Regions from separate parts of the Homo sapiens genome. Here all the other regions are linked to region 2. Evidence: fine-mapped expression QTL. A gene starts in region 2. Each other region holds a variant in brackets. All regions are shown on one strand. Distances are between the middles of the regions.

What was found. PIP is the estimated chance that this variant, and not a neighbour inherited with it, causes the effect.
Region 1: its variant is the best candidate, but not a certain one, in a credible set for the expression of PKD2 in amygdala (GTEx, PIP 0.79).
Region 3: its variant is the best candidate, but not a certain one, in a credible set for the expression of PKD2 in whole blood (TOPMed, PIP 0.67).
Region 4: its variant is the best candidate, but not a certain one, in a credible set for the expression of PKD2 in whole blood (INTERVAL, PIP 0.66).

The regions. Positions count from the first base shown.
Region 1 is chr4:87,963,081-87,968,232 of GRCh38, reverse strand. The region is part of intron 1 of LOC124900730 (a long non-coding RNA gene); the gene reads left to right. Among named protein-coding and RNA genes, the nearest start is that of SPP1, 10 kb to the left of the region's middle. The variant C/G (reference allele first, on the strand shown) is at 2,545.
Region 2 is chr4:88,005,051-88,010,200 of GRCh38, reverse strand. PKD2 (polycystin 2, transient receptor potential cation channel) reads right to left here and starts at 2,566. Exons shown (of 15, transcript NM_000297.4): 1 at 1,873-2,566. The coding sequence starts at 2,467. RefSeq lists silencers at 1,684-1,823, 1,874-2,803.
Region 3 is chr4:88,235,150-88,240,301 of GRCh38, reverse strand. No RefSeq gene overlaps it. Among named protein-coding and RNA genes, the nearest start is that of PPM1K, 47 kb to the left of the region's middle. The variant G/A (reference allele first, on the strand shown) is at 2,204.
Region 4 is chr4:87,852,285-87,857,436 of GRCh38, reverse strand. No RefSeq gene overlaps it. Among named protein-coding and RNA genes, the nearest start is that of MEPE, 22 kb to the right of the region's middle. The variant C/T (reference allele first, on the strand shown) is at 3,244.

The sequences.
Region 1 (5,152 bases), 42 kb after region 2:
ATGGTCATGAGCCATACAGTGTGGGAGAGTGTCAGTATGTCTCTGCTAATCTCAAACAGCTGTGAATCACCAGTTCAAAACACACACCTACTGATTATGGGTTAATATCATTAGCTTCATTCTTAATAGATACAATGATCTTAAATATTAGTTTTCTTGACTCTCTAAACTTTGAACAAATTGCTTATTGTATTTTAACAAGTATCATATTTCTACAGAAAGACATGTTTCATAGTTGGTCTTATGCCTTACCACATTTGAATTCTATGTAGCACCTACCATAATAATTGTGCAGGTACTGTTGGCTGTACACCAAAGATGTGTTGTCTTCAGAGTAGTTGCTGGGAAGCAGCTGCCCAGCTGAAACTACATTTCTCAGCCTCCCTTGCATTTAGATGTGGCCATATGTCTAGTTCTTGCTAAGGGAATGTAAAACAAAGTGATGTGTTTCCCTTCCAGGCGGAAGTGCCTAAAAACTTCAAAAAGCGTGCCTCCCCCATAGTCTTCTTCCTTACCCTTTCACCAGATGAAGAGGACTGAAGCATTTTGGATAGCAGAGCCCAGGGAGAACATGACTTGAGCTGTCTGCTGATCTGGAACCCTAGCATTAGATATCGTATTGTTACAGGATCTTTGGAGTGTTGCTTTTTTGGCCAGAAACATACAGCCGGTGGTGCCTTTGCCTCTGGCCCACTGGACTCATTCTGCCCACTCAGCCTGGCAGGCTGTGTTCAGCTCATGCTACTGGCCTGGATCCCATGCCTCCAAGGGATGCCGCGAGTCAGGCATGGAGTGGCAATGGGGTGTGAATGAGCATAGAGTCTGGCCACTGTGCAGTCAGACACGCCAGCTGCTGCTGCGGGGCAGGAAGCTCCAGGTGCCGACATGGGCGCCAGCTCTCTTCAAGGCTGTGGCTGGACCAGCGCCCCACAGGCAGCTGTCCTGGCTCATACTAGGGAATGTGGTGGTGCCCAGAGGCTCAGAGACACCAGGGACCACAGGGTCTCAAAAAGGGAGTCACAGCCCTAGCTCAGGGAGATCCCAGGTCTAGGCTCCCTGAAGGGCTGCAGCTCTTCTCTCCTCTTTGCCCACCAACAAAACGAGCAAGGGGCATATTTCAGCTCTGTTTGTGTTACAGCTCTTTTAGCATCACCATTCCACAAGTCCTGAGTTCTTGTCCTGTGACCAGGAAGAATGAGGTACATAGACAAGTGGAGGGTGAGGAAGACGAAGAGGAGTTTTATTGAGCAACAGAACACCTCAGGGAAGACTCACAGTGGGCAGCTCCTCTCCATAGCTAGGGTGTCCTGACGAGTGTTCAGCTCCTATCAGAGATATAGGCAGGTCATCCCGAAAAGTGTTCAGTTCTCAGCAGAGTGGGTATCTCCTCTCTGCTGCTGGCTGTCCCTTCATCTCTCCATCCTCTGCCCTGGTGTTGCTGAGCCCAGGGCATTTATGGACCTCAGAGGTGAAGAAGTGCACACCAATTGGTCCATGGGCAACCATGGGCAGGCCTGGAAAAGACACCACGAGTCTCCGCTCCAGTCTGTGGGACTGGCAGCCTGGCCCCCAGCCTTCAGGCTCTCCCTGGCCTGAAAATGGGGCCTCACCTGGACCTGCCCCCTTCTGCCCAGGAGCCGGTCTGCCTCCTGTGGCTGTCCATGGCACCCAGGCTGCTTGCACAAAGGGGCACTTGCAAGCCAGCACTGAGCTGCCCTCATCCTCACCTCCACTTCCCTCCCCGCAACACTCATCAGTGCCCAAAGTCTGGAGGAGGCCGAGGTGGCAGGGGGCTGGTGTGTCAGTGCTGTCCGGAGCATGCGCACAGCCAGCTGGGCTGTGACAGCTCTCCGGCTTGGCCCCAACCCCACTCCAAGATTGGAGTGGGTGCCAGGAGTGGGGAGAGACCAGGCAGCAGGAGCAGACAGGCCCCCTAGGGTGCAGACTGCACAGACTCCCAGGTCCTGCTCCTGGGAGGGCGGGGCTTTTGCCCACCCAGCTCACAGCCTTGTCTGAGGGGGACCCTTTGGGAGTGGATCAGGGCCTGGCCTGGCAGTTGAGAGTGTCAGGCCCGGTGATCACCTCAATGCGGGACGGAACCCCTGGACACAGCCCCAGTCAGCCCTGTGCAGAGCCTTCTCCTGACGTGCAGGAACTTGGCTTGGTGGGGTGGGTGCTGTCACTGCAAAAATTGGCTGGGTCCTGAAGCGGGCACTGCTCCCACTTCCAGCCATGGGGCCCTGAAGCACACCCCAGGTCAGCGCCTTGGCTCGGCCACCACGCTCTGTGTGCAAGCGTCACACTGCCCTGGACCCAGTTCTGCCTTGGGGACCCTCTCTGCCTGACAGCTGCTCCCCTGCCCATGGGCGACTTGGCCTGGCCCCATCGTGGTGGCCCCCAGGGCTGTGGGCTTCGGGGACTGTCTGCCTCTTCCACACATCCTCCCTGCAGCAGCAGAGGGTGACAGCAGCAACGCGGGGCCAGGGGCTGAGCTACGGAGGCTCTGGGCCTGGGGATAGGTCCTGCCCTGCAGTGCTAGGGTCC[C/G]GGTGGCGTAGTCGGCTGCCTCCCAGACATTGGACATAGGGCACAGGGGTACCCCCTCCCCCGCAACCCGCCACTACTGCTCCCACAGCCGCTCCTGCCACCACCGCTGGCGCCTCCCAGCTGCAGCTGGCAAGATGACAGCAACCGCTCCGGATGGCCCACCGTTGCCATCAGTATGAATGAGAAATAAGTTTCTATTGCCTTTAGTGCCTGACATCTGTTACGATAGCAGATGTTACCTTAATTAACACAATGCCATATGCATAATATTGCTCAGTTCATAGCTTTTGGATTTTATCGTCTGTGTTCCAGGTCACTAGACTCATGAAACGGAATTTAAGTTATGGTGCTATAACTTTATATGTATCTATTTTCTATTAATTTTTGCTCCCCCATTTCTAAAAGCCAGAATAAGTTCATGCGAGGTTACTAATATGTTAAAATTGAAGTTGATTATTTTATACAATAAGTATGTGACTAATTTTTTCCACAAGGAGATGGTATGCAATATCAGTAGATAAGTGATTAGGATAGCGGGCTTCTCTTGATCCTCTGTTTTTGTTTTTCCCACTTTTGCAAGAAGAGAATCAGCTGTGGTATAGGTTTTAGTGGATAGTGTCCCATGTTGGGAATCTGGGAACCTGAATTTTATCTTGCCTATACCACATAATTAAATATTGTTAAGTTGGCTTATTTCTGAGAAGAAAGAGGCTACAGCTGCCTTCCACTAAATGATAAATTCATCTCGCAACTTCTGAATCGTTCACACAGCATCATTTGCTTTTACTTCTTAGTTAGGCCACCTGTTTTTTGGATACCTTTTGCTTTTTGACCTTCTAACAAGTAGCCAGTGGCAGTTAGAGATCAAGTTAAATTGTCCAGGCTTGGTCCTCAAGTCTGTAATCCCAGCACTTTGATTGCTTGTGCTTAGGAGTTCAAGACCAGCCTGGTCAACATGGCAAAAACCCTGTCTCTATGAAAATAAATAAATAAATAAATAAATAAGAGATCAAGTTAAAATCAACCCATCTAGTTATATTTGAGAACTTAAAGTCATGTTCTCTGAAGGTTTTGAATGACTTCCGTTTACTAGTAAGGATGTGTTCACAGATTAATTTTAGTCTTAGTTGCCTCTCACCAGATCAAATATTGTGTGGGAGGTAAATTCTAGGAAACCTGAAGAATTTTAAAGCACTCTACCATCCTCATATGGAGATGACCATAATTAAAGGAAACAGTAGCTTATGTCAGAAACTGTTTATTGTTGGGAGCTGAAGCTTTGACCCTTTCCTGTATATTTATTTCACTGATATTCCTAAACCTTTGGTGGTCTTTTGGTCTGTGGGTCATAGCTGGGCTAAGGGGTTAGCCAGAGTTCTTAGTGAAGTAGCAAAAGAGGTTATGTGTGACATATCAGCAGAGTGGGTACACCCATTTGTCTGGGTTGGGGAGGAAGTGGAGGCTGGGATCAGTAAAGTGGCCTTTTTCTGTTTTTAGACAGTGCCAAAGCATCTCAGACTGGGGTTTCAGCTTTATTTTTGTTTACGAGGAGTTGGTTCAGACACAAGTGAAATTGTGGTGTCTTAACCTCTAGTAAGATTGAAAACATACATGTTGTTTCATCAAGCTTGGTCTCTTAGGAACCCGGTTTATCGTAGAGATGATGTTATTCTGAATTTAGAAGGAAAAGGGTGACAGAGTTTCATTACAAAGATTATAAAGATGATGATTACAAAGATTACAAACATTTTGTAATCGCTGACTAGAATATAAATGAGTATAAAAATTTTACTTTTTAAGAAGGATAGAAATCCTACATACAGTAAATCTATTTTTCTAAAACATGTTTTACTTCCACAGCAGTTTTATAAAATTGGCAGCTGACTTATTTTTTGTGGTCCTATCTTCTAGCCTGAGTGTTAACCAGGTGGACAGGCAGATTAGGATTAGGAAATAAGATCAATTAAACTTTTATCCTATAGTACCAGGTTTGAGCGGGTACATGGTTGTGTGTAGATCTTTCTTTCACACACAGGATTTGAGTGTTTTTTTTTTTTAACAAAAATTTATGAAACATAAAAGTATAGAGTAAACAGTTGAGGAATTTACTAAAAGAAAGCTAAGAATTCAGAAAGAATTCTAAAAGAAAGCTAAGTGTTGGAGTAAATATTGCACAAAATATAAAACATTTAGTTCTATACATTGGCATGTAAATGTTAATTTTAGTTGCTTTGAAACAACAAAATAAAAATATCAATTTCAGTTATGGTTTAAAAATACACATTGTATGTATCCATGCAGTTAACCAAAATGCATTTTTGAAAAAAAAGGGTGATAAGAATCCTAAAAGATAAAAATGAGACCTCTATTAAAAATAGTATTTCCTATCTAGCACTATGATTCCAGTCCTAGACTCTCCCAGCTGGAAGAGAGATGGTAGGAAGGCAGGGCATTGAGAAAAAAGGGGATGGTTCTTGACTTGTGGCTTCATTTCAGCTCTAAGACAACTTAAATTCTAAAAGTGCAGAAAATCACAAGGAATGAAGATTAGAGCAGATTTAGTTCAAATAAAAAAAGATGCCCTCAATGACAGTCAATTCCATGTATT
Region 2 (5,150 bases):
GCAGCTTGAGCCCAGGAGTTTGAGGCCGCAGTGAGCTACGTTTGCTTCCCCGCACTCCAGCCTCAGTGACAGAGTGAAACCCCGACTCTTAAAAAAAAAAAAAAAATTCCCGATTCCTGAGTCTGCTCTCCTACAAATCAGACCATTGACACACTTTGGCTAGAGGTTTTATGACTATGAGCTTATTCATTTTGTTTCCTGAAATTTTCCTTTAAAAGAAATAAATTTACATACATACTCATATGAAATATATATTTTATTTCTCTATATTCTGTTATTGAGTTTATTCAAACAAGGTTAGGGGTGTTATCAAATGCTTAAACTGAGTTAAAAGGATCATGCAACTTACCATTATTTATTAACTTAAAAGGAACTTCTCTCTCACTTCAGTGAATATTTTTTAAATGCACATTTTAAATGGTGTAAAATAACATAATTAATCCAGTTTTGAATCTTAAAAAGTGTTAGTGTTTTATTAATTTACTCACACAGGTTATCCGAAAAGGATCTTCTGTTCCCCATCATGCTTTTAATAAAATTAACTAGTATAAGAATCTCCATAAACGAAGTACCAAAATGTTTACATTTATATTTCTGAAGCGCTAATAACATGACAAATACATGCTGCACATTTTATGTCTTAACTCACTTAATTCTCCCAAAGAGTCAAGTCCTAAGCGTTATGATCATCTCTTTAAAAAAAAAAAAAATCCAAAAATTGGGTATCAGAGAGGATAAGTAACTTGCTCAAGGTCGTACAGCTAATGAGTGGTGGAACTGGGATTTCAGTGTAGGCCTGACCTGGTTTTAATCACACTGCTGTAACAACACCTGGATTGTTTTTGTGCAAGACTTTCAAAACTGACAGAAGGAGAAGAACAAGAAAAACTCAACTGAGAATGGAAACTCTTAAAAATATAGATTAAAATAATTTGGAGGGTAAAAGCAAATGAAATACTTTCCCAAGGATACCTCTGACAAAATTTGTAAAAAGAGAATTTCCTCTGGTACTAGAAAATTCATGTCCTCTTACTGGGCACTGGCAAATTTGAAAATTCCTCTTCTGCCTTTTGTAGAGCTGGGCGCACTGGGCTCAGACACATTTATCAGCTGCTATCTGGTGACTTCATCATTTTGGTGGAATTTCAAAGAACATTAATTTAGTTATTTAAAAACATACTTCAAATTTTTTTAAAACAATGTAATCTTTCCTTTGCAACTGTTTTTAGAAAAATGTCTAGAATTAGAAACGGCCAAATAACTTCACGATATTATTTTATTCTATTTGTGGTGTTCTTAACAGCTCCCACTCCTCAAAACAACCACACACATCACCAAAAAAATGCACCAATGACAATCTGCCACACTCCTCCCACAACTTGACATTATATGCACTGTACTGCTACCCTTTTCAGCCCGGGACAATGGAGTGTCCAGGCAAGAAGGAAACCACGGGTGACTATAACATTTTCCTTTAGATTTTGTGACATTGGCAAATATGCAGTTGCAACTACCATCAGTTACACAAGTAATGTTCATTTTTTCCTCTACAAGAAAAAAAAAAACAAAACCCAGATGTACTCTTTCACTCTAATTAGGCTTTCACTAATTTTCAGTAAAAAAGACTATGGTGACATATCCTGAAGAAGGAGGTATCCAATAAATATGCACCAACAAAAGAGCAGTGGAATTCCGCGCTGGGTACCGGAAATAGGGCAGCACTAGCGGAGGTGGGGAATGCGCTTCCAAGGGAGGCGGAACGCAGAGGGGATGCGAGATGGAGCCCGGGGAGCTGCCGCAGCGGGCGATGGCCCCGGCCGGCGCCGGCCGTTCTGGTTCGTGCATCTGCCGCTGCGGGTCGCGCGCTCTTACCTCGCAGCCCGCGAACCAGCCTCTCCGCCCAGGCCACTCGGGGCGGCTGCCCTTCCAGGGGGAGGTGGCGATGCAGCGGGTCCCCGCCGCCGACTGGGCTGGGGCACGGCGGGCCCTGGTCCTCTCGCCGGCGCCGCCTCCCGCTCGGGTGGCCCGCGCCGTGGTAGCCCCCAAGCCCCCGGCTCCGCGCGCCCACGGAGCTCACGGCCGAGGAGGCGGCCGACCTCCGGCTGCCCGGGCGCCACTCTACGTCCATCTCCACCACCATTCCGCCTTCTTCCCCTTCCACCTCCTCCTCCTCCTCCTCGGCCTCGAAGCCGGGGTTATCGCGGCTCCACGCCTGCCGGGAGCACGACGAGAGCGGAGGAGAAGGGGAGGCCGCGGCTCCGGCCGGGGGGTCCCGCGCGGCCGCCTGCCGGATGCGCTGCATCTCGATCTCCAGGCCCCGCTGCTCGCAGAGGCCGCCCGGGGCGGCGAGGCTGGCGCCCACGGCCGCGCAGCCAGCCATCAGCCGGCCCGGGTCCGGCGCGCGGGGCGCGGGCGGCCGCTTGGCGTCCCCGGGCTGCTGAGGCTGCACGCGACTGGAGTTCACCATCGCGGTCACTGGCGTCCGGCGCGCGGGTGCGCGGCGCCGCGCTCGGCGCTGTGCGCCTCAGGAGCCATGTTCCTTTCTTCCCGGCGCCCGCCGCCGCCTGCTCCCCGCCCCCGACCTCCCCGCGGTCCCGCGTCCTCTCGCCCGCCCCTTTGGCCCGCCTCCCTCTGGCCTCGCCCCGCCTCGCCCATCCGCCGCGGCGCGCTGAGCGGGGAGGTGCGAGGGAGCCGCCCCCGCGGTCTGCGCGCTCGCCCGGCGGCTCCCGAGTCCGCGTTCCAAGTGGAACCGGAGCCCGGGCGCGGGCGCCCACGTTCCATTCCCGGGAAGGCCTGGGAAGGGAGGGAATCGCTCACCCGCCAGCCCGCCTGCAGGGAAAGGGCTCCTGGAGCTGTCGATGCCTGCCCGACGCTGAGATAACTCTTGGGTCCCAGTTATCCACCAGCCACTTCTGCCTCGATTCACCAAAGGGCAGGGAAAGAACCTTTTGGTGAGATGGTGTGAATTAGCGACATCCAGCCTGAGCTGAAGTCTCCAGCGGGTCAAAGAAATCTTTCCATTTGCAAACTACCAAGGCTGACTTGCTGTGCATTTGGCGGGCCTCCTGCCCCTGATTCTGCTGGTTTGGAGATGCTTTCTCGCTCTTTGGTTGGCTTCTGTCTCCACACATTGTGGGGATCCCAGGGATTCGTCATAGGACTCTCGGATCGCTGGTGCCTCCACTGTGATCTCCGGTCTCCCTGCGGCCAGCACTGACTTCTAGCAACAGAATCCTGCATGAGGGCCTAGGCACAGAACTTTATTTCCACTCTTCTGAACACATCTAATGTGATGCTCTGCAATTGTCTGAAATTTATCCTACCCTAAGTCATTATCTTGTCCCCTTCTCTGGAACCTGCTTCACTTCCCGTATCCCAAGGTGAGGTTTGGGGCTTCGCTGTCCTCCTCACTTCCCAGGCCACTCTTCTTCATGGAAGCCTCGCGGTTTACCCTCCACCGCCTACACCTTATCTTCTTGTTACTTTTGCCCCACAGATATCACCCTGATATGATCTCTGTTTCTCACTCCTGCTGGCTTGATCTTATGTCTTGCATTATTCCGCATTAGAACAATTGATCCCTGTCAACTCCCATCTCTATTCTCCACGTCGGTGTCCTCACTATTTCCAGGTTATATTGCAGAACCAAAGCTGCTTATTTGTCACGTTGATGCTTAGACACCTCTGTGGGCTTCTGGCAGCTGAAAGGATAAAATTTAATTTCTGTGGTTTGGTTTAGTAAATTCTCATAATCTGCTCCTGTATTTGTTTGTTAGGGCTGCCATAACAAAGTACCAGAGACTGGGTGGCTTAACAGAAATTTATTTGCTCACCTTGTCTCTACAAAAAATACAAAAATTAGCCAGGCTTTGCGGTGTGTGCCTTTGGTCCCAGCTATTAGGGACGCTGAGGTGGGAGGATCGCTTGAGCCCGGGAGGCAGAGGATGTAGTGAGCCAAGATCGGGCCACTGCACTCCAAGTGACAGAGTGAGACTCTGTCTCATAAAGAAAGAAAGAGAGAGAGAGAAGAAAGAAAAAAAGAAGGAAGGAAGGAAAAAGAAAAGAAAAATTGTATTTTCTCACGAGGTGTTGGCAGAGTTGGTTTCTTCTGAGGCCTCTCTCCTTGGCTTGCAGATGGCCCCGCTTTTGTGTCCTCACGCCGTCTTCCCTCTTCCCTCTGTATGCGTCTGTGTCCTAATTGTCTATTCTTATACATCATATTGGATTAGGGCCTACCCTCATGACCTTGTTTTCACTTCATTACTTCTGTAAAGACCCTGTCTCCAAGTATGGTCATGTTCTGAGGTAATGGGGGTTAGGACTTCAACACAGAAATTTTTGGGGGGACACAATTTAGCTTTAACAGCTCTTAATGTACTCCTCTAGCATGGCATCCCATGCCATCCATCCACCTTAATGAATTATTCATTTGTTCTCTAGGCACATATAACATGCTGCTAATATTTAGGTAATTATGGCTACCTATTACCTGATCCTGCAGTTTATTAATTTAGATATTCATGTTCTTCTCTTAACTGTGAGCTTCTCAAAGGCAAGACTGGTGGGTCTGGAGCACAGCCCTAGCTCATGCTATTCATCAGTTCATTCTGAAGACATTTCCTGTGCCCTGAATTAAGGTCTGGGCATGTAGAGAGGAGTATGATACAGCCTTGGCCCTCAAGAGGAGACAGACCAAAAATGAGAGATTACCAAGTGGGTTAAGGGTTATGGTGCCTGTCATCCAAGGAACTTCTGAAGCTGAAGATGTCCTGAATAGCACCAGCAGCACTGCAGAGTCGAAGGATTCTTACAGACACATTCCAACAGAGGAGAGCCAGGCCTGGAAAGAGAATGCAGAATCTGAGCCAAAGGGTCCTCTGGAGAATAGGCCTAGTACAATGTTTTCAAATTGTGATCAGAAGATCTCCAGCATCACTTGCAGCTCTTGCTAAAAATATAGATACTGGGTCCACATTCCAACCTTATTGACTCAAAATCTTCCGGATTCCAGTCCTGAAATTCTGAATCTTCACAGGGGATTCTCAGGCATCCAAAGTTTGAGAAGCACCAATGTGTTCCAAATGGAAGAGGTTTCATAAATATTTCCCCCACATTTCTATACTTCACTGTTAGCACTAGTGAGACAATCA
Region 3 (5,152 bases), 230 kb before region 2:
AGGAGAGGAGAGGAAAGAGTAAAGAGGAATTTGTCTTGCAACTTGGATACCAACTCAGCCGCAGTAGGATAGGGCACTAGTCAGGGTCATTAGGCCCCCATTCCAGGCCCTAGTTCCCAGACAGTATTTCTAGACATACCTTAGGCCAGAAGGGAATCCACTGCCTTGAAAGGAAGGACCTATCCTGGGAGGAATCATCACCTGCTGATTAAAGAGACCTTGGGCCCTGAATAATCAGCAGCAGCACCCAGGCAGTACTTGCCATGGGCCTTGGGTAAGACTCAGAGATATGCTGGCTTTAGATGTGAACCAGCACAGTCCCAGCTATGGTGGCTATGGTGAGAGACTCCTTTTGCTTGAAAAAAGCTGAGGGAAAAGTAAAGAGGACTTGATCTTGCACCTTAGGTACCAGCTCAGCAACAGTGGGGTAGAGTAACAAGTGGGCTCTTGGGGCCCCTAATTAGAGGCCTTGGCTCTTAGATGGAATTTCTAAGCCTTCCCTGGGCCAGAAGGTGGACCATTTCCCTGAAGAGTGAGTCCCAGACCTGGCAGCCTTCAGCATAAGCTGACTGAAGAGCCCTTGGGCCTTAGTGAACCTCGGTGGTAGCCCGGCAGCACTCCCCTTGGGCCTGTGGAGGTGATGGCCATGGGTGAGTTTCCTCTGCCTGTAGAAAGGTGAGGAAAGCGTAGAAATAACTGTGTCACATAACTTGTGTGCTAGCTCAGCTGTGGTAGAATAGAGCACCAGGTAGATTACTAAGATTTTTGACTCTAGTCCCTAGTTCATGGATGGCATCTCTGGAAAAGAATAGGGTCTAGGGGAACTTGCTGCCCTGAAGAGAAGGACACAAATCTCGCTGGCTTTACCACCTGCTGATTGCAGAGCCCTAGGGCCTCGAGTGAACATAGGCAGTAGCCAGGTACTGGTTACAACAGGCCTTGGGTGAGACTCAGTGCTGTGCCAGCTTCAGGTCTGTCCCAACTCAGTCCCAGTGGTGGTGGCCACAGGGGTGCTTGTGTCACCCCACCCCCAGCTCCAGACAGCTCATCACAGAAAGACAGACTCCATTTGCTTGGAAGAAAGTAAGGAAAGAAACAAGAATCTGCCTGGTAATCCAGAGAATTATTCCAAATATTATTCAAGATTATCAAGGCAGTACCTCTATGAGTCTGGAAGAACCATAGTGTTACTGGGCTTGAGATGCCCCCTAATGTAGATATGTCTTAGATCTCAACACCCAAGTCTTTTTAAATGCCTGGAAAGAGTGCAGAGACTACCATAGATATCTGACTCTTCAATGCCCAAACGCCAATGAACATCCACAAGCATCAAGACCTTCCAGGAAAACATGACCTCACCAAATGAACTAAATAAGGGAACAGGGAACAATCCTGGAGAAGCAGAGATATATGACCTTTCAGACAGATAATTCAAAATAGCTGTTTGGGGGAATGCAAAGAAATTCAAGATAACACAGAAAAGGAATTTAGAATTCTGTCAGATAAGTTTAACAAAGAAATTGAAATAATTAGAAAGAATCTAGCAGAAATTTTGGAGTTGAAAAATGGAATTGACATGGTGAAGAATGCATCAGTCTTTCACCAGCAGAATAAATCAAAACAGAAGAAAGCATCAGTGAGCTTGAAGACAGGCTACTTGAAAATATACAGTCAGAGGAAACAAAAGAATAAAAAAATATAAAGTATGCCTAGAAGATCTAGAAATTAGCCTTAAAGGGGCAAACCTAAGAGTTATTGGCCTTAAAAAGGAGCTAGAGAAAGAGATAGGGATAGAAAGTTTATCCAAAGGAATAACACAGAACTTCCAAAACCCACAGAAAGTTATTGATAACCAAATATAAGATTATATAACACCAATCAGATTTAACCCAAAGAAGAACATCTCAAGGCATTTAATAATCAAACTCCCAAAGATCAAAAATAAAGGAAAGATTCAAAAAGCAGCAAGAGAAAAGAAACAAGTAACATACAATGAAGTGCCAATAAGTCTGGCAGCAGACTTTTCAGTGGAAACTGTACAGGCCAGGAGAGAGTGGCATAACATATTTGAAGTGCTTATGTAAAAAAACTCTTACACTAGAATAGTATATCTGGCAAAAATGTCCTTCAAGTATGAAAAAGAAATACTTTTCCAGACAAACAAAAGCTGAGGGATTTCATTAACATTAGACCTGTACTACAA[G/A]AAATGCTAAAGACAGTACTTCAATCAGAAAGAAAAGAACAGTAATGAGCAAGAAGAAATCATCTGAAGGTACAAAACTTACTGGTAATATTATAGTAACGCCACAGAAAAACACAGAATATTATAACACTGTAAGTGTAGACTTAACTACTCCAATCTTAAGTAGAAATACTAAAAAGATGAACCAATAAAAAAATAACTACAACAAGCTTTCAAGACATAGACGGTAAAATGAGATATAAACAGAAACAACAAAAAGTTTAAAAGTTGGCAGATGAAATTAAGGAGTAGACTATTGGTCTTTATTATTCTCTTTGCTTGTTTGTTTAAACAAGCAGTGTTGTTATCCGCTTAAAATCGTGGGTTATAAGATAGTATTTGCAAGCTGCACAGTAACTTCAAATCAAAAAACATACAACAGATACATAAAAAATAAAAAGCAACAAATTAAATCATACCACCAGAGAAAATTATCTTGGTTGAAAGGAAGACAGGCAGGAATGAAAGGAGGAAAAAGCAACCAGAAAACAAATGACAAAATGGTGGGAGTTAGTCCTTACTCATCAATAATAACACTGAATATAAATGAACTAAACCCTCTAATAAAAACACATGGAGTGGCAGAATGGATGAAAACACAAGATCTCATGATCTGTTGCTTTACAAGAAACACACTTCACTTAAAAAGACACACATAGAATGAAAAGAAAGGGATGGAAAAAGATATTCCATGCCAATGGAAACCAAAAAAGAGTAGACAAAATAGATTTCAAGACAAAAACTCTAAGAAGAGACAAAGAAGTCATTATATAATGATATAGGGGTCAATTCAGCAAGAGTATATAACAATTGAAATATATCTGCACCAACATTAGAGCACCCAGATATATAAAGCAAATATTAGAACTAAAGAGATAGAATCCAATACAATAAGAGCTGGAGACTTCAACCCCCCACTTTCATCATTGAACAGATCTTCCAGACAGAAAATCAACAAAGAAAGATCAGACTTAATCTCCACTATAGACCAAATGAACCTAATAGATATTTACATAACATTTCATCCAGTGGCTGCAGAATACATATTCTTCTCCTCACCACATGGATCTTTCTCAAGGATAGATTATGTTAGGCCTCAAAACAAGTCTTAAAACATTCAAAAAAATGAAATAATATGGACCATCTTCTCTGACCACAATGCAATAAAACTAGAAATCAATAACAAGAGGAATGTTTAGAAACTACACAAAACACAAGAAAATTTAAAAATATGCTCCTGAGTCAATGAAGAAATTAAAAGAAAATTTAAAACTTCCTTGAAACAAATGATAATGGAAACACAACATACCAAAACCTATGGGATACAGCTAAAGCAGTACTAAAAGGAAGGTTTACAGCTGTAAGTGCCTACATCAAAAAAGAAGAAAAACTTCAAATAAACAACCTAAGGATTCATCTTAAAGAACTAGAAAAGCAAGAACAAACCAAACCCAAAAGTAGTAGAAGAAAAGAAATAATAAAGATCAGAGCAGAAATAAATGAAATGAAGAAAACAATACAAAAGATCAAAATAAAATGCCGATTTTTTGAAAATATAAACAAAATTGACAAACCTTTAGCCACACAAATGAAAAAAAAATAGGAGAGAAGACCCAAATAAATAAAATCAGAGATGAAAAAGGAGACATTTCAGCCAATCCTGCAGAAATTCAAAGGATCATTAATGGTTACTATGAACAGCTATATGCCAATAAATTGGAAAAGCTAGAAGAAATGAAAAAATTCCTAGACACATATAACCTACCAAGAATGAACCATGAAGAAATCTAAAACCTGAACAGACCAATAGCAAGTAATGAGATTAAAGCTGTAATGAAAAATCTCCCAGCAAGAAAAACCCTGGGATTCAATGGCTATATTGCTAAATTCTACCAAATACTTGCTAGAAAAACAAATACTATCCTATTCAAACTATTCCAAAAAGGAAAGGAAAAGGGAACATTTCCAAACTCATTCTACAAGGCCAGCATTACCTTGATACCAAAACATGTCAAAACATATCAAAAACACAATGATACCAGCCTGGGAAACATGGTGAAACCCCAACTTTACAAAAAATACAAAAATAAGCCAAGCATGATGGTTCATGCCTATAGTCCCAGCTACTCAGGAGGCTGAGGTGGGAGTATCACTTGAGCCTGGGAAGTCAAGGCTGCAAGGAGCTGTGATCATGCAACCACACTCCAGCCTGGGCATCAGAGTCAGACCCCGTTTCAAAACAAAACAAAACAACACCAAAAACCAAAAAACCCCACAAAGACAAGGACATATTTTTTAAAAAAGGGACAGGCTATTATCAGTGATGAATATTGATGCAAAAATCCTCATCAAAATACTAACAAATTGAATACAAAAACAAATTAAAATATCATTCATCATGACCAATTGAGATTTATCCCAAGGATGCAAGAATGGTTCAACATATGCAAATCAATTAATGTGATAAGTCATATCAACAGAATGAAGGGCAAAAAACATAAGATCATTTCAATTGATGCTGAAAGAGCATTTGATAAAATTTAACATTCCTTCATGATAAACTCCCCCAAAAAAATGGGTATAGAAGAAACATATCTCAACATAATATAAGCCATATATGACAGACCCAGAGCTAGCATCGCACTGAATGGGAAAAATACTGAAAGCTTTTCCTCTAAGATCTGAAACATGACAAGAATGTCCAATTTCACCACTGTTATTCAATGAAGTACTGGAAGTCCTAGCTGGAACAATCAGATGAGAGAAAGAAAGAAAGGGCATCCATATTGGAAAGGAAGGAGTTAAATTATCCTTGTTTGCAGATGATATGATCTTACATTTGGAAAAACTAAAAACTCCAGCAAAAACCTGTTAGAACTGATAAACAAATTCAGTAATGTTGCAGGATAC
Region 4 (5,152 bases), 150 kb after region 2:
GTCTGGCTTAGTGTATTCCAAATATGTAACCTATAAAATGTGTTTTAATTCTTTAGCCTGCTTGTTTTAATAGAGATGCTTGGTACTACGTTGTTGTGAATGACCTAAGTCAATTAAGCTATTCACAATTATCAGGTTGTTCGGATAAGCATTGGCACATCCAGTAGTGAGGAGTGGCCGGGAACTATGGGATTCTTTTCCCATGGCTTTGCTCCCATGGTGGTATCCAACAGTGAAAACAAGTCTCAGACCGAATGCTACCACATGTTCAAGCATTTATTAGCAAACAGACAAAAACAGCCAAGAGCCTGTTCCTTCAGGGACAACAAAGTCTCCACTGTGACCTCTTAGGCTCTCCAACAAGCACCCTGCATGAAAGGTTCACTCTTAGGCAAATGTAATAACATTCTGATGACAGGTTCAGCTAACCTTCTGATTGGGTCAGGAAATAGAATCCTTCATTATTTGAGAGATCAGATGACCTTACTCTAGAGGAATTCAGCTAATGGATGCATCAGATTCTCTCACTCTGTTCATTCAGAAAGGAGAAACCTGCATGATCTTTCTAGCTTGCTGTAGGTTTCTGTAGGTTTATTGGTTTATCCTGTCTGCAGTTCACCCACCTATTTAAATCTGTAGGTTTTTGTCTTTTGCCAATTTGGAAAGCTTTCAGCCATTATTTCTTCAAGTGCTTTTTCAGCCCTGCCCTTTTTTTCCTCTCCTTCTAGAACTCCAATGACGTAAGTGTTAGATCCATAGGTCCCTGAAGCTCTGCTCTTGTGTTTTTGTTTGTTTGTTTGTTTTTACAGGCTATTTTTTCTGTGTTCAGGTTGAAAAATTGTTCTGTCTTCTAGTGGACTGATTTTTTCCTCTGTTCCCTCCATCCTTTTAATGAGCCCATCCACTGAGTTTTTCAAAATTTCCATTATTGTCTTTTTCATGTCTAACATTTCCATCTGGTTCTTCTTTAGATCCTCTCTTTCTTTGCTGAAACTTTCTACTTTTTCATTTGTTTGAAGTGCATTTATAAATTTCTCATTGAAGCATTTCTATGATGACTGCTTTACAATAATTTGTTAGGAAATTCTAACATCTCTGCTGACTCAGTGTTGGCATCTATTGATTGCCTTTGTTCATTCAGTTTGAGATCTTCCTGTTTCTTTGAATGATGAGTGATTTTCAATTGAATCCTGGGTACTTTCATATTATAAGACTCTGGGTATTATTTAACTTCTATTTTTGCTTCCTATGACACCACTTTAGAAGGGTAGAGATAGACGCCCAGGTTTCCCACTTGGCCTCCCTTGACATCCCTGTGTGTGTGTGTGCATGTGTGTTGGGGGCTCCTCATTACTACAGGAAAGGGTGGAAGTTCTGGCTCCCCACATGGTCTCTGGTGGCACCATAGGTAGGTGGCATTGTTACTGCTAAGCAGTGGTAAAAATCTTGACTCTCCACTAGACCTCCTGTGCCCCCCCCTCAGCAGGAAGTTGCCGAGTGGGAGTGGAGTCCAGGCTGTCCTCATGGTCTCCACTGATACCACAGGAACTGCTTGTTACAGGCTGGCTGGAATGAGAGTACCAGCTCTCTTCTCAGCCTTCTGTGATACCACCCCGGAGGTGGTGGTGGTGGTGGTGACGGGGCTGAGGCACCTCGTGGTGGCGTCTCCAGGTTGGAAGTCTGGGCTCCCCCACTCAGCCTTGGCTTGTGTGGGTGGGGTTGGGGCCACAGTTTTCTCTGCGGTGTTTGGCTGGCGTAGAGTGGTTATTGTCTAAAAGTGTTCAGCGTTGCTGGACTGCCCCTTTCCTGTTCCTTTGGCTAGAGTGTGCAGGCTTTTTTTGTCTGTATTTGGTGTTTCTGGGCTGCCAGCATCTGGAGCTCCAAGTCTGGGATATATGAGACCAAAAAAAGCCCAGGAAGCTTAATGCCTTGTCATTCCTTGAGTCTTAAGGTCCCTGGCCCATCTTTTTAATTCTCTCCACCTTTCAGAGTTTTCTTGGGTCTGTTCTACATGTGTCCAGGGATTACAGTTGTAATTTGGTTGTAATCTATTTCACCTTTCCAAGGTGAAAAAAAAACCTTTAGTTTTTTTTTAAGTCTACATTATCACAGTTTTCTGTACTGTCACTATTCTGATTTCATTTTTTTCTTTTTCTTTTGTTTTTTGAAACAGAGCCTTGCTCTGTCATCCAGGCTGGAGTACAGTGGCGCGATCTCGGCTCACTGCAACTTCTGCCTCCTAGTTTCAAGCGATTCTCCTGCCTCAGCCTCCTAAGTAGCTGGGACCGCAGGAGCATGCCACCACGCCCGGCTAATTTTTGTATTTTTTGTAGACAATGGGTTTCACCATGTTGCTCAGGATGGTCTCAAACTTCTGGACTCAAATGATCTGCCCATCTTGGCCTCCCAAAGTGCTGGGATTACAGTGTGAGTCACCGTGCCCAGCCTGATTGCATTTTTGATCTTATTGCTGGTCTTGTAGGTTTAGGAAATGCTGTAGAGCTCAGCATATTGATATTAGCAAAGCATTTGACAAAATTCTTTTGTGAGCATATCTAGGCCAGTTAATAATAGAGCCATAGTCATTATTAACCAAACAGCTGCACCCAAAAAGTATTGATTAATAGATCAGCATCGGCCGGGCGCGGTGGCTCACGCCTGTAATCCCAGCACTTTGGGAGGCCGAGGCGGGTGGATCATGAGGTCAGGAGATCGAGACCATCCTGGCTAACAAGGTGAAACCCCGTCTCTACTAAAAATACAAAAAATTAGCCGGGCGCGGTGGCGGGCGCCTGTAGTCCCAGCTACTCGGGAGGCTGAGGCAGGAGAATGGCGTGAACCCGGGAAGCGGAGCTTGCAGTGAGCCGAGATTGCGCCACTGCAGTCCGCAGTCCGGCCTGGGCGACAGAGCGAGACTCCGTCTCAAAAAAAAAAAAAAAAATAGATCAGCATCAGGCTACAAGGGGGCCAACTTCAATATGCTGCAGGCACTGTCCTAGCCTGCCCTCTGCCCTGTTCAAAATTTCTTCAAACTGGTGAATGAACACCCAGGAAGTATTTGCATCTTAAGAACTGGGAGTGATAGTTAATATTTAGGATCACAAAATCGAGATTGAAGAAACTTCAATAAAATAGCATTGTGAAATAGAGCATTATGCATCCTGGATCAGAAAATAAATGATATAATACTGTACAAAGAGCAGAGCTGGTCTAATATTGTTTTTTATGGAGTAAGCACATGAG[C/T]AAACAAAAACCAGAAGGAAGTTAGTACTTATATAATTAGAAATTAAATAAGGAGAAAGGGAAACTAATATGAATTTAGCCTGTATTTTGGACCAAGTGCTGACATAGGCATTTTGTAGATGTTAAGGAGTCTAACACAATCCTAGACTATATTAACAGGATTGAGTGGCCAGAATAAAGGGTAGACTATTACATGGTCTGCTGAGATGTTCAAACAATATGTGGAATATTGTGCCCAACCAACTGGAGGTAAGTGTGGTGAAAGAGCACATGAAAGGTCATTGAAAAATGTTTAGTTTGATGAGGAGAAGTGTAGAAAACAGGAAACATGTAATGTGGAAAATGAATGCATCTTTCTGCCTAGCACCAAAAGTGTAAGGTAAGGTAATGAACTCCCTGTTAGTGTAAGTATGTAAACAGTGGCAAAATGACCAGCTATTAGGGGTGAAACACAGTGAACCTGCCTTAGGTGAGCACTGGACCAGATGATCTCTAAGGTTTCTTCCAAGAATCTCTGCACCTGTATAGAGCCAGTTAGAAAAAGAATGGCAACGTGTTAATGTCAGGGGGTTTAGCCTCACAAAACTAAGCACAGCTGATCTTGGCTTTAAGGAGATTCAGACATTAGTAAGAAAGAAAAGAGACTTTTTAAGACAAATTCCACTTTATTATCTAAGGAAACAGGAAATTCAGAGTTTTATAGGAGAGATGTATGCAAACAAAAACTAGATTAAGTTTCCAGAGGGGGCTGTTATTATTCAAACAAAAGAGCCCTTGTTTTTATTTATGGAGTTTAAAAGTAATAGGATACGGGCATTATGAAAGAGAGGCACCTGATTGTATGTTTTTTTTTTTTTTTTTTTAAACTTCCTTTAGGGAGACATTTCCAAATTTAATTGTGAATGAAAGTTAAAAACTCTCTTTGCTTTGTTTCAAAATGCTTTTCAAAAAGTGAGCGAGGTTGCCATCTAGTGACTATTTTCTGGTTTTCCATTTTAAAAGCTCTTTAATACGGGTTCTTATGGCAGTGTTGCTGAAACCTGGCTGTGTATTAGTGTCACCTGGAAGTTTCCTAAAATGCAGAATACTAGGACCCACCAAAGAATCGGAATCTTTGAGAATGAGCTCCAGGGTTGTGCTTTCTGATAAAGATCTTCAGATGACTCCACTGGACCTAGCCTGTCACCAGTGTTTGGAATTAACTGCCCTGGGGCATATTGTGTGCAGGTGGAAGTGTCACAGAGGCAAATTTATGTAAAGTGCAATATTCACTTACTTGCTCTAAGAACCTACTTGCTCAGGTATATGAAACTTGATGTTGCATCTTTGTATCTCATATTTAAAATAGACTTGGTAATGCTAAAAATTTACCCTACTGTTGTACACAAAGATACATGACCAGTGATGTTTATTGTAACACTGTTTGAATAGTGATTAGCTAAAAATCATTTAAATGCCTATCAATAGGGATGTGGCTAAAAAAATGACAGTAAATCAAAGCAGCAAATTTTATGCAGCCATTTAAAAAGAATGGTTAAGCATCATATACAATTTTTATTTGTCAATCATACCTCAGTAAAGCTGAAAAAACACAAGAGTTTATAATAGAGACAAACTGGGAAAATGCTAAATATTCTTCAATAGTAGACTGAACAAACTGTGGTAAATGTATATAATAAAATTTAAAAATGATTTAAAAATATTTGGTAATGTGATAAAAGAGCAAATTAAGATAGCAGAAAAGAACACTAAAAGAATATAATGTTTTCTTAGAATATATGTCAGTATATAGTTAGAAAAAGAACTGGGAGGAAAAATGTGATGAAAGTGTAATTTTTTTTTATATTTTCTTTTTTTGTAATTTTATATAATGGGTTTTTCATTTCTCTCATAATCAGAAAACTAAAAA